2 separate regions of the Homo sapiens genome follow, and region 1 is linked to region 2. Evidence: fine-mapped expression QTL. A gene starts in region 2. The other region holds a variant in brackets. All regions are shown on one strand. Distances are from middle to middle.

Region 1 (5,332 bases), 190 kb before region 2:
CCCCTTCTTCATTCAAAAGCCCTGGCCTCTATATCCCACCCCTTAGACCCTCCCTCCTGCCCTCACATGCTCTCTCCATCCCTGGCCCACTAACTCACCATAGGTGACGACTTTGCCCATGGGTTTCAGGAGGTTGTAGCCCTTGGCAGTATCTGACCCACCCAGAGGGTCCATGACAATGTCCACTCCTGTCATAGAGTAGGGGAACCCAAGAACAACATTAGGATCCACAGATCTGGAGCTCCCCTCCCTGTCCTGTGCCTCCCTACCCCCTCCCATATTATGCCCCCCACCTTTAGGGGAAATCTTCTTGATCTCATCCACGTAGTCAGTCGTGTGATAGTCGATGGGATGTGTGACCCCATTCTCCTTCAGTGCCTCGTGCTTGCTGGCCGAGGCCGTTCCGAACACTGTCACATTCTCCACTGTACGGCACAGCTGCACGGCAGCCATACCCACACCCCCTGCAGCAAGACACCCATAAGCAGGGGATATGGAGTTGCCCTGGCCACCAACCACTCCATTCTAGCCTCCCAGGGACTCAGCCTGTCACCTTCATTTTGCCTACGCTCATTTTAGGGCCGTGTCTAATTTCCATGACTGAGAAGTGGTGGGGAAGGTAGCTAGAGAGGTGGGGGTGTGGGGTGAGGGCACGTTGCTAAGGATAGCACACCAGACTAGACCTGGTGCCTGAATGTTACCACGGCAACTACACAGCAGAGGCCTCTGGGAGCCACAGGCCAAGGCAGCCTGGTGTTGCCATGACAACAACCCAGACAGGCTGCAGGGAAGGGGCCTGGAAGGAAATCTGGGTGGGGTAAGGGGTGATAAAGTGAGGGGACCTGTCACCTGCAGCCATGTGTACCAAGACGCTGTGGCCAGGCTGTAGGTTGCCGAAGTCAAAGAGGACCATGTAGGCTGTAATGTAATTGACGAGCAAGGCAGCAGCTTCCTCAAAGGTCATGGCCTCAGGAATCAGGAAGGTCTGGACCGAGGGCACAGTCACCTCTTCCTGCCACATCCCTGACCGGTTCAACACCATCACCCGGTCTCCTGCCTTGAAGAACAGAAGAGTATCATTCAGTCACTCATTCATTCACCCACAGGCTATTTACTGATTTCCCCCTAGGTACAAGGCTACCTTCTTCCAAATGAAGTAGCAGGAGAAGCAGCAATAGTCATGGTAATAATAATAATAATAACATCATCATCAACAACAATAACAACTCACCTTTACTGAGTGCTGACTGAGGGCCGAGCCCGATTTCAAGTGCTTTATATATAATGCTTAATTAACCCTTACATCAGTTCTTTGAGGCAGATACTATCCTTATCATCTTCTTACAGATCTTACATGTCACTATTGTGTAAGATCCCTGAATGCAAGAAGCTTACAGTTAGGGCAGCATGAAGTATTGTGGAAAAGATCAAACTGCTGTGGTTACAAAAGCGGTCTCAACTGTTTACTGACTGTGTGACTTCGGATGCATAAAAATTACTTAATCTTTTTGAGCTCCACTTTTCCAGCTCCAGTTTTCTTATCTGTCAATTAGGGCAGTTTTTCCAAATGGAAAAAAAAAATTTTAGCACAATGTCTGGCACATAATAAGCACTTAATAATGTTAGCTAACAATAATAATAATAATAATATAATAGCAGCAAGGAAGTCACACAACCAAAAGAAGACGGCACTGTGTGGTCAGGGCCATACCAAAGTGCAGGCAAAGTTCTCTGAGCGCTTACAGCAGGGTGTGGTCACCTCGGGAGAAGTGTGTTTGAGCCAGCACTGGGAGCCCAGAAAACATCTTCACTCAGAGATGGTGCAGGAGGGGCAACAGACAAGAAGGGCTACAGAGGCCTACGCAGCAGTAAAAGGCTTCCCCCCCACCCCCACGAGAGCCTCTGTGCAGGAGGGAAAGGGGACAAAGATAACAGAACCTTTCTCTCCAGCTTAGCAAGTGGGGTCAAGGGAAGGGCAGGGAAAAGGAGGGAGCGTCAGGAGAAAAGACTTCTCTGCGCTCTCTGAAGAGCATGAAGAGGGAGGTGTGGGTGCTGTTCTGGGACAATCTGGGTCTGTCTTGATCCCTGCCAGGAATGATGGGAATTCTGTATATTAACAAGAGTTAGGGTCCATGGGGAAGGGGGATGGGACTGCCACTTACGCCCTTTTTCATGTCCTCAAGCCCCCACACTCCACTGAATACGAGAACTGAGGGCATGCTGGGGTCTTTCCTTCCAAGTTCTGGCCTGAGATGAGGTCTGGAGAACAAGAACGGAAGCCCTCCACCCAGGGACTCAGGACTAGCAGATACAGAACAACCCAGGAGAGCTGCGAGGAGTGCATTGGTCATTTAGGGTCATGGCCAGTCCCAGATTTGACCCAGAACAAGTCTCACTTACCCTGGCTCATGCTAACCCTCAGGCCATCCAAATCAGGGCCATGACCCCTCCCCAACCCAGACACCAGGAAGGAGGAGGAGGGAGAGAGAGGGAAGGGCCCTCCCCGCAGAATCCAGGCTCTTACATCAGATTCTTGCCCTGGACAGGATATCCTGTATTTACCAGGCGGAAAGTGTATGGAGGGGAGGTGAGGTGGGTGGCCTTCAGCAGTAACATGAACTACAACTACCTCCCGAAAATATTCCTCTTAGACGCCTGCTCAAGAGTGGGATCATTTAGAAGTCAGTTTGAGGGTGGGGCCAGAGCTGAATTCAGAGGAAA[G/T]CCTTAAGGAGAAGCTGTTTGCATACAGGATGAATCCAACAAACCTGGCTCCAGAATTGGGCTGGCAGGTCTGCAAGAGGCTGCATCTGTGGGGCCTCTCATTGAGGGGTCTGATTTAAAAAGGAAACTCCTGGCCAAGCGCAGTGGCTTATGTCTGTAACCCCAGCACTTAGGGAGGCCGAGGTGGGCAGATCACCTGAGGTCGGGAGTTCGAGACCAGACTGACCGACATGGAGAAACCCATCTCTACTAAAATACAAAATTAGCCAGGCATGGTGGCGCATGCCTGTAATCCCAGCTACTCGAGAGGCTGAGGCAGGAGAATCGCTTGAACCCGGGAGGCAGAGGTTGCGGTGAGCCGAGATCGCGCCATTGCACTCCAGCCTGGGCAACAAGAGCGAAACTCCGTCTAAAAAAAAAAAAAAAAAAAAAGAAAAAGAAAAAAAAAAGAAACCTCTAAACAAATGGCGTGCTGAGGCCTCATCCCAGGTCTCTCAAAAAGCTGATCATTTTGAGCTCTCTGGTGTCCAGGGTTGTGGCCAAGATTAATGATAAATGAGAAGGAGAAACAGGCCTGCAGACTTGGCCAACCAGTTCAAGGCGCCGCACCTCTCCGTTCCAGTCCAAACCCCTGGCACTGGGGTTTCTGAAGTGGGGGTCCTCTGCAGGAGGAAGGCAGAGGTGGGTCCCCCCTTCCACTCCCCGCCCCAGGCATTCCCAAGGGCAGCCCCGGGTCGTGGCCCGAAGGCTGAGGGCTGAGTCACAGGAGGAGGAGATACTGCAGTCACGGGAGACACAGAGCCCAAGACAAAGATCGGATGACCCAATCCCGCCTCCCCCACCCCAAAATCAGATCGGCGGTGTAAGGCTGGTGGCGGTGGGGTAGCAAAGGCTCTCTCTCCTCCGTGATGGGCGTGTCTCGTCTCTTTGGCCTTGCTTTGGGAGGGGCCGCCTCACACCCCCACAGACCACGGGGCTGCATGTGACCAGGACTCTGGCACGGCCGCTGTGCCCCCGCCCAACCCCGACGACATAGCCCCTCAAGCTCCCTCGGGGAAAGGGGGCACTAACCGTCACTCATAGTCACAGACCACAATTACCCAGAGAGTGTTTGGTGGGTAGGGGTACAGGTGTGGTTTTAATGGGGGGGGGGGGGGGGGGTGGGGACGGTAGTGTGGTTGTGCGCATGCGCATGGGCACCTTATTGTTTTCCCCCCCACCAGCACAGCTTCTGGGCGGCGGCCACAACTAAAAATGGTTGGGGAAGGGGCGATAATTTCGTCTCCCCTCCCCACATAAATGCCGCTCTCCAGGAGCCCCCAAACACAAGTTCCTTGGCTACGCTTTCCACGCTCGTGCACCCAGGTCCGCGCCAGTTTCTCCCGCCCTGCCACACCCCCGGCGCTCGCCCACTCGTGCCCCACTGCCCAGTGGCCTGCGCAGCCCTGCCCTGCCCTACGCAACCCGCTCACCTTGCGGTCGCTGACTCCCTCGCCCACTGCGATCACAACACCCGCGCCCTCCATGCCCGGAGTGACAGGCAGAGGCGGGAGACGGTCGTACAGCCCCTGCCTAGCCATGAGGTCTGCGAAGTTGAGCCCGCAGGCCCGCAGACGCAGCGTCAGCTGGCCGGGCCCAGGGGCCGGGGGCGCTGCCGGCCGGCTCTGCAGCTTCACCTTGTCGTAGCCTCCAAAGCCGGTGAGCACTAGGCAGCGCAGCAGTGGCGGCGAGGCGGCGGCGGCGGCGGCCCCTTCGGAGGCCGCGGGATGCTGGGGGTCGCTCGCTGCCTCGGTTTTCGGAGGCGGCGAAGAGGCGTCTTCCCCGGTCGCTGCCTCGGCTACCTCTCTCTCGTCGGACATGGCTGGGACTCCCGACGAGAGCGCACAGCTGGATGGAGAGTGCACAGCTGGGGAAGGCGGAACGCGTCGGGAAGAGCCGCGGCTGCGGGATCCAGCGGGAGGGGCGGGGCGCCGGGCGAGGCGGGGCCTCGCGCTCAGCCTTAAAGGGCCAGGGCCATAGTGGCGCAAGCTGGGAGAGCACGAAAAGGGGCACCAGGAACGTCTGTGCTCTTGGGATCAAGCCGACTGTGATTTATTTATTCATAGTAAACCTTATTCAAATTAAAAACTATTTTAAGGGATAGGCCTGGCGCGGTGGCTCACGCCTGTAATCCCAGCACTTTGGGAGGCCGAGGCTGGTGGATCATTTGAGGTCAGGAGTTCAAGACCAGCCTGGCCAACATGGTGAAACCCCCGTCTTTACTAAAAATAAAAAAGTTAGCCGGGCGGTAGTGGCGCGCGCCTGTAATCTCAGCTACTTGGGAGGCTGAGGCAGAGGAATCGCTTGAGCCTGGGAGGCGGAGGTGAGCCGAGATCGCGCCACTACACTCCAGTCTGGGCAACAGAGTGAGACCCTGTTAAAAAAAAAAAAAAAAAGGGCCGGGCGGCGTGGCTCACGCCTGTAATCCCAACACTTTGGGAGGCCGAGGCGGGTGGGTGGATCACCTGAGGTCAGGAATTCGAGACCAGCCTGACCAGTATGGTGAAACCCCAGCTCTACTAAAACTACAAAAATTAGCCAGGCATGGTGGCAGGTGCCTATAGTCCCAGCT
Region 2 (5,371 bases):
CTACAGGCGCCTGCCACCACGCCTGGCTAATTTTTTGTATTTTTAGTAGAGATGGGGTTTCACTGTGTTAGCCAGGATGGTCTCAATCTCCTGACCTCATGATCCGCCCGCCTCAGCCTCCCAAAGTGCTGGGATTACAGGTGTGAGCCACCGCACCCAGCCCCTCTTACCTATTCTTTTGGAGGAGAAAAAATCAAGAAGCCTTCCCAGGTTGTAATTTCCCAAGCTGTTTTTTTTGTCCAGCTCCTCTGCATATCTGACAAAATTTCCCATAGCATCTTTCAGTAACACTTTTATCTTGCTCATACTTCCCCCATCATCACAATTACACTTATGTTCACAGGGTCTCTGGGGCTTGCTGTCATTCCTTCATCTGGCCAAAAAATGCTTCTTCCTGAAAGCCCCGAGTGAAGCATTCTCCTGGTTCTAAGTACAGTTCATTAGCTCCCCGGTTTCCCTTTTCTCCTCCTTCAAGTACACAGATAACTAATCTAAAATAGGGCCTTCCCAGTCCGAACCGTTGGTATCAAGTACACAGGAGTGCCATAGCCTTGAATCTAATTACCTAGTACTTTGAATAAATCTGGAAAGACTAGTATGCTTGCAAGATGATACAAATGTATAAAATAAACATTTAAATTATACAGAATTTTTTTTTTTTTTTTTGCTTTGCTTGTCTCTACACAGCCAATAATTTCTGAAGATCAGACAGCAGCCCTGATGGCCCATCTCTTTGAAATGGGATTCTGTGACAGGCAGCTGAACCTACGGCTGCTGAAGAAACACAATTACAATATCCTGCAGGTTGTGACAGAACTTCTTCAGTTAAACAACAACGACTGGTACAGCCAACGCTATTGAGGAGTGACCTTGTATTAAATAACTGCCTGCTGCTCAGAGATGATCTTTATTCTGTCATTGGGGTATGGGATAGAAGCCCTTGCTTATTTTTAATCTGATGAATCTGTATAGAGCCCATCGTTGAGTTACCAAGACAATACCTGCTACAGTATTTTGGGGAGCAAACTAAAGACCAGAACTTAAATTTTCACTTTAGACATTGGATGAATAGTATGAAGACAGTTTTTCAGTTGATTTGGATAAAACTATTTTAGTGCATTGACAAGTGTAACTTCAACTTCATATAGAACCATTTTTCTTTCTGCTTTTATTGAAACTGAGTATTTTTCTTTGGCTAATGTGGATTTTTTATGGGGATATCTGTTAATTTTCAGGTTTTGAAAGACATTAACCTCGGAAGTTGTTTTTAAGAATTATTCTCATAATTCTTATTCTCATAATTTCTGTAATCCACCTCAAGCTTCATAGTTATTTGGCATTGAAATAACACCCAGAGCATGATAGAAATGTTGTTACTCTTCCTCTCTCAAGGAGAAAGTAATTTTCCTGCAATACTTAATAATTGGCACCGTTGCTTTCTAAAGACTCCATGGTGCATTCAAGAGTATCCAACTTCAAGGGAATCTCCGCATTTCAATGAAAGGAGGAAGAGTGTGCTGATAAACCTACCAGCACCTATTGAGCAATGTCTATTATAGTAATTTTGCATACATTTTTATTTAAGGGAAAAAATATAGGTATTGTGAAATATTTTGCTAATCTTATAGAAAAGGAAAAAATCCCGTTATTTAAAGGGAAAAGTAAATTTAACAGTTGCCTTTTTTCTTAATGTCAGGGCAGATCTTATTTTACAGTACAGTGGGGGAAATAGAAACATGTGAAAGGCAAAAGGCAGGCTCCTAAATTAATGTCAGTGAAGTTCAGGGTGGGCAAATGAGTGTGTGTGAGGTATAGGAAATGCTGATGACTTCTTTAATGCTTGAAGTCCGTTCACAGGTATCTAGCCCTAGAATGCCTAGAACAGGAAGAGGCAGCTGGTGTTCTGCAAAACTTGGACAGGGGCAAAGTTGCTGAAAAAGTTTTGGTTTAACCCGAAGATAAGTGGAAAAGAGCTTGTCCATGAACCCAGGTTCTCACTCTGTTTACAGAAGTGTGTTGAGTACAGTTGGTGAAGGAAGAGGTAACAAAAAATGCTAAATATTTTATCCATGAAAATGACTTCCAGAAAAGGAAGAATATGAACCCCAGACCGAAGGGGAAAAGATAGTTAATAGTATTATCTAACCTGGTTGGTATTTGTAATGAATGGTGATTTTAATTAGTCATTAGCCATAATGATGTTTATTTACAGTATAACTCCTGAATGCTACTTAAATAAACCAGGATTCAAACTGCAAGCCAGCCAGGCCGTTCATTATTTAAAACGTTTTAATCGGGGCTTCCGGGTAGAAGGTGGAGCGGCAGGGTGTAATTGGGTTGATGGGTGGGACCTGTCTTGACCATCGGAGTTTTATAATCGAGGGCCAGGAGGGCCCGGGTTGCTCTCCTGGTTATGTATGTACTTGTACATAACCACCTAAAGAATGGTGAAATAAATGTTCTTGGAAATTCCTACCCGGACTGGCTAGTCCTTGCGGAAGCAGCGTCCGGGCCCTCGGGTAACGTTTGAAGAGCTGGCAGCGTCTCAGGCTGCTGCGTGGCGAAGGGGCGGACCGGGGGACGGGGGGGTGGGCCCTTAGGGGCTGGGGCGGGACTTCCCTGGGCACTGAGTCAAAGCTTGAGGGGAGTGTTCGCTCCCGCATTTTCGATTCCACTCTCTTCCGTTTCTGTCGCTGCAGTCGTCCGCGGGTAAGGCCCTCCCTAGACCCTTTATACCTACTTTACCTTTCGGAGGTCAAGACACCTCCTGTTGCCGCCTCCTCGCCCAACACACAGGCGCCCCCCGCACGGGTACCAAGCTTGACTAACGGCCTCTAGGGGTGTGTGGTGGGACTTGAAATCCTCCCTTAATGAAGTCACACCTTCTCCGTCCGCTTCCACCCGGTCGGCCCATGGCAGAGCCCCCATGTAGCCCAGGAATCGGCTTGGCCCTTCGGGGAGGTCAGCGTCCTTACTATCCCCACTCTCCAGTGCGGCACATTCGTTCCCCTAGGACTCCGGCCGGTTGCCGGCCCCAGGCGGTGCTTCTCCCCACCACCGCCCAGCTCAGCTCAGCCCAGCCCAGCCCACTCTGCCCTTAGAGGCCCTTCTCCCCAAAGACGCACTCCAGAAGTCTCGCCCTCGTGCGGCTGAGGAGCCTGGGATCCCAGACCTGAACAAGGTGAGCATCCCTATATTTTAGCCCAGAAAGATCTGTGTGGCTCACTTGCCGGCCTCGTTCTGTCACACAGAGTCCAGATTTAGCCTTGAGTTTTCCTAGTGAAAGACAGACCCTGGTATCACTATGACCCTCCTCAGGCTTTCTTACCCCGCCTCAGAAAGCAGTGAGGTGTCTGCTTTCTCCCAGGGCTTCTTTAGATAGGGGTCTTAACCACACCTGTGACCAGTCTGGCCTCCTCTCTCCTTGATTCAAAGAATCTCTTTTCTGCCCTATCCAACTTCCTTCCCTTAAACTGAATGACAGCTCAGCAACTTTTCCAGAGAAAAATTAAATGCTCTGACAATCACTTATGGAAGTTCCTTAAAGTGAAGTAACTTCTGCTTTTCTTTTGTTTTCCCTTTTGTAGGCAGATTGGTCTCTTTTAAAATAATGAAAGGAGTCGAAATGCATTGAGACTTCTGAGAGTCCCATGTGACCACCCAGTTTTTCACATCCTATCTTCCTTAGGCTTGAGCTTGCTTAAACTGTGGTGAAGCTCCTTGCCAGTCTTGAGAACTTCAAACCAAAATTACATCTGGCGTCAGTGCTAACAAGCTTAGCACTGAACTTTGGTCTTTTCTCATTAGTGAAACCCCCGCCCCTGAAGAATGGGTAAGACGTTTTCCCAGCTGGGCTCTTGGCGGGAGGATGAGAACAAGTCAATCCTGTCCTCCAAACCAGCCATTGGCAGCAAGGCTGTCAACTACTCCAGCACCGGTAGCAGCAAGTCTTTTTGTTCCTGTGTGCCTTGTGAAGGAACTGCTGATGCCAGCTTCGTGACTTGTCCCACCTGCCAGGGCAGTGGCAAGATTCCCCAAGGTGAGTGGCCCAAGGCTCTGGAAATAGCCTGGAATCCAGGGAAAGTTCTTAGCCTGTTGGCCTGGGGCAGCCCCTCTGAGTCTCCTTGGATGGGGTTAGATCTGCTCCCAGCTCTTGACCTCCCAGTCTCAGGCTGGCCAGGGAGATACTTAACTATCCTTGGGTTCCCTGCAAAAACCTGCCCTCCTTCCCTGGTTGTATTCTCCAGCCCCTTGTGGGAAAGAAGGATTCTAGCCACTGTGCTTCTGAGCAACACTGTGTGTCCTAGGATTCATTCAGTTCAGGAAGTTACAAATGAACTTTCCAAAGATGCTGGGCATCTCTGATTTGCTGGTGACTTTCAGAGATTCTTCATACCTATTAGTGGAAATCTCACTTCCATTCTAGAGATGGCAAAGCTGAGCTGCCAACTTTGGTAGCAGAGTCCAGTGCTTCCAGTCCTGCTCTGGGGCAGATGTGGCATGTTTCTAACATTGCTCTATGGTGTGGGTGGAGGCGTGCTTCTGGGAAGCTGGCACAGTAAATATTTGTCACAGTTGCATCTTGGCCCTCCCTCTCACCTTCTCTCTCTCTAGAGCTGGAGAAGCAGTTGGTGGCTCTCATTCCCTATGGGGACCAGAGGCTGAAGCCCAAGCACACGTAAGCCCCCCTTCCTCCCCTAGCTTCACAAGCCATTGCCCCTGGGGGCTGCTCCCTTTGTCTCCCCTGTTTTGATCTCCCTTAATTTCTTCCTATTAGTTCTTCCATAGAAAGCCTGAGCCTCAGAGGTACCAGCTCCTTACGTCCAAGGATTTTTTCCTGATTTAGAAGCTCCTGGACCGGGTGTGGTGGCTCATGCCTGTAATCCCAGCACTTTGGGAGGCCAAGGCAGGCAGATTACTTGAGCTCAGGAGTTCAAGACCAGCCTGGGCAACATGGTGAAACCCCATCTCTATCAAAAAAAAAAAAAAAAAGAAAAAAAAAAAGAAAAGAAAGAAAGAAAGAAAAAAGCAGCAGCTGTGGGCACAGCAGATGTCACTTGAGGCCACCTGGTGGGCTTCCTTAAGCATCACTGCTTCCAGAAAGCATGGCCCCCTCTCCAAGACAGGAAGGATCTGGTAGCTCTGCAAGTCCTCCCAGGAAGGAGGGAACAAGCATGTGGCCCTGGCTGCAATTGATTTGAAAATGTTATTTTTCTTAAGCACCTCCCTTGCTGAGGCAGTTCAGATTTGCTTGTTTTTCTTCTAGTAGAGATGAAAAACCTATTGTCCGCTGTTCTGGGATACTTCAGAACCTCAGGCAGACCTGGGGCCTACTGTGTTTGTGATCTGAGTCCATCTGACATGGAGCTCC

Evidence for each region. PIP is the estimated chance that this variant, and not a neighbour inherited with it, causes the effect.
Region 1: its variant is fine-mapped to the expression of TMEM106A in monocytes after LPS (Quach 2016, PIP 0.95).

The regions. Positions count from the first base shown.
Region 1 is chr17:43,017,743-43,023,074 of GRCh38, forward strand. VAT1 (vesicle amine transport 1) reads right to left here and starts at 4,643. Exons shown (of 6, transcript NM_006373.4): 1 at 4,194-4,643; 2 at 850-1,057; 3 at 294-464; 4 at 99-188. The coding sequence starts at 4,580. The variant G/T (reference allele first, on the strand shown) is at 2,722.
Region 2 is chr17:43,209,214-43,214,584 of GRCh38, forward strand. TMEM106A (transmembrane protein 106A) reads left to right here and starts at 2,662. Exons shown (of 9, transcript NM_145041.4): 1 at 2,662-2,709; 2 at 3,014-3,181; 3 at 3,808-4,039; 4 at 4,615-4,678. The coding sequence starts at 3,829. It overlaps NBR1 (NBR1 autophagy cargo receptor), which reads left to right. Exons shown (of 21, transcript NM_005899.5): 21 at 688-2,475. The coding sequence ends at 861.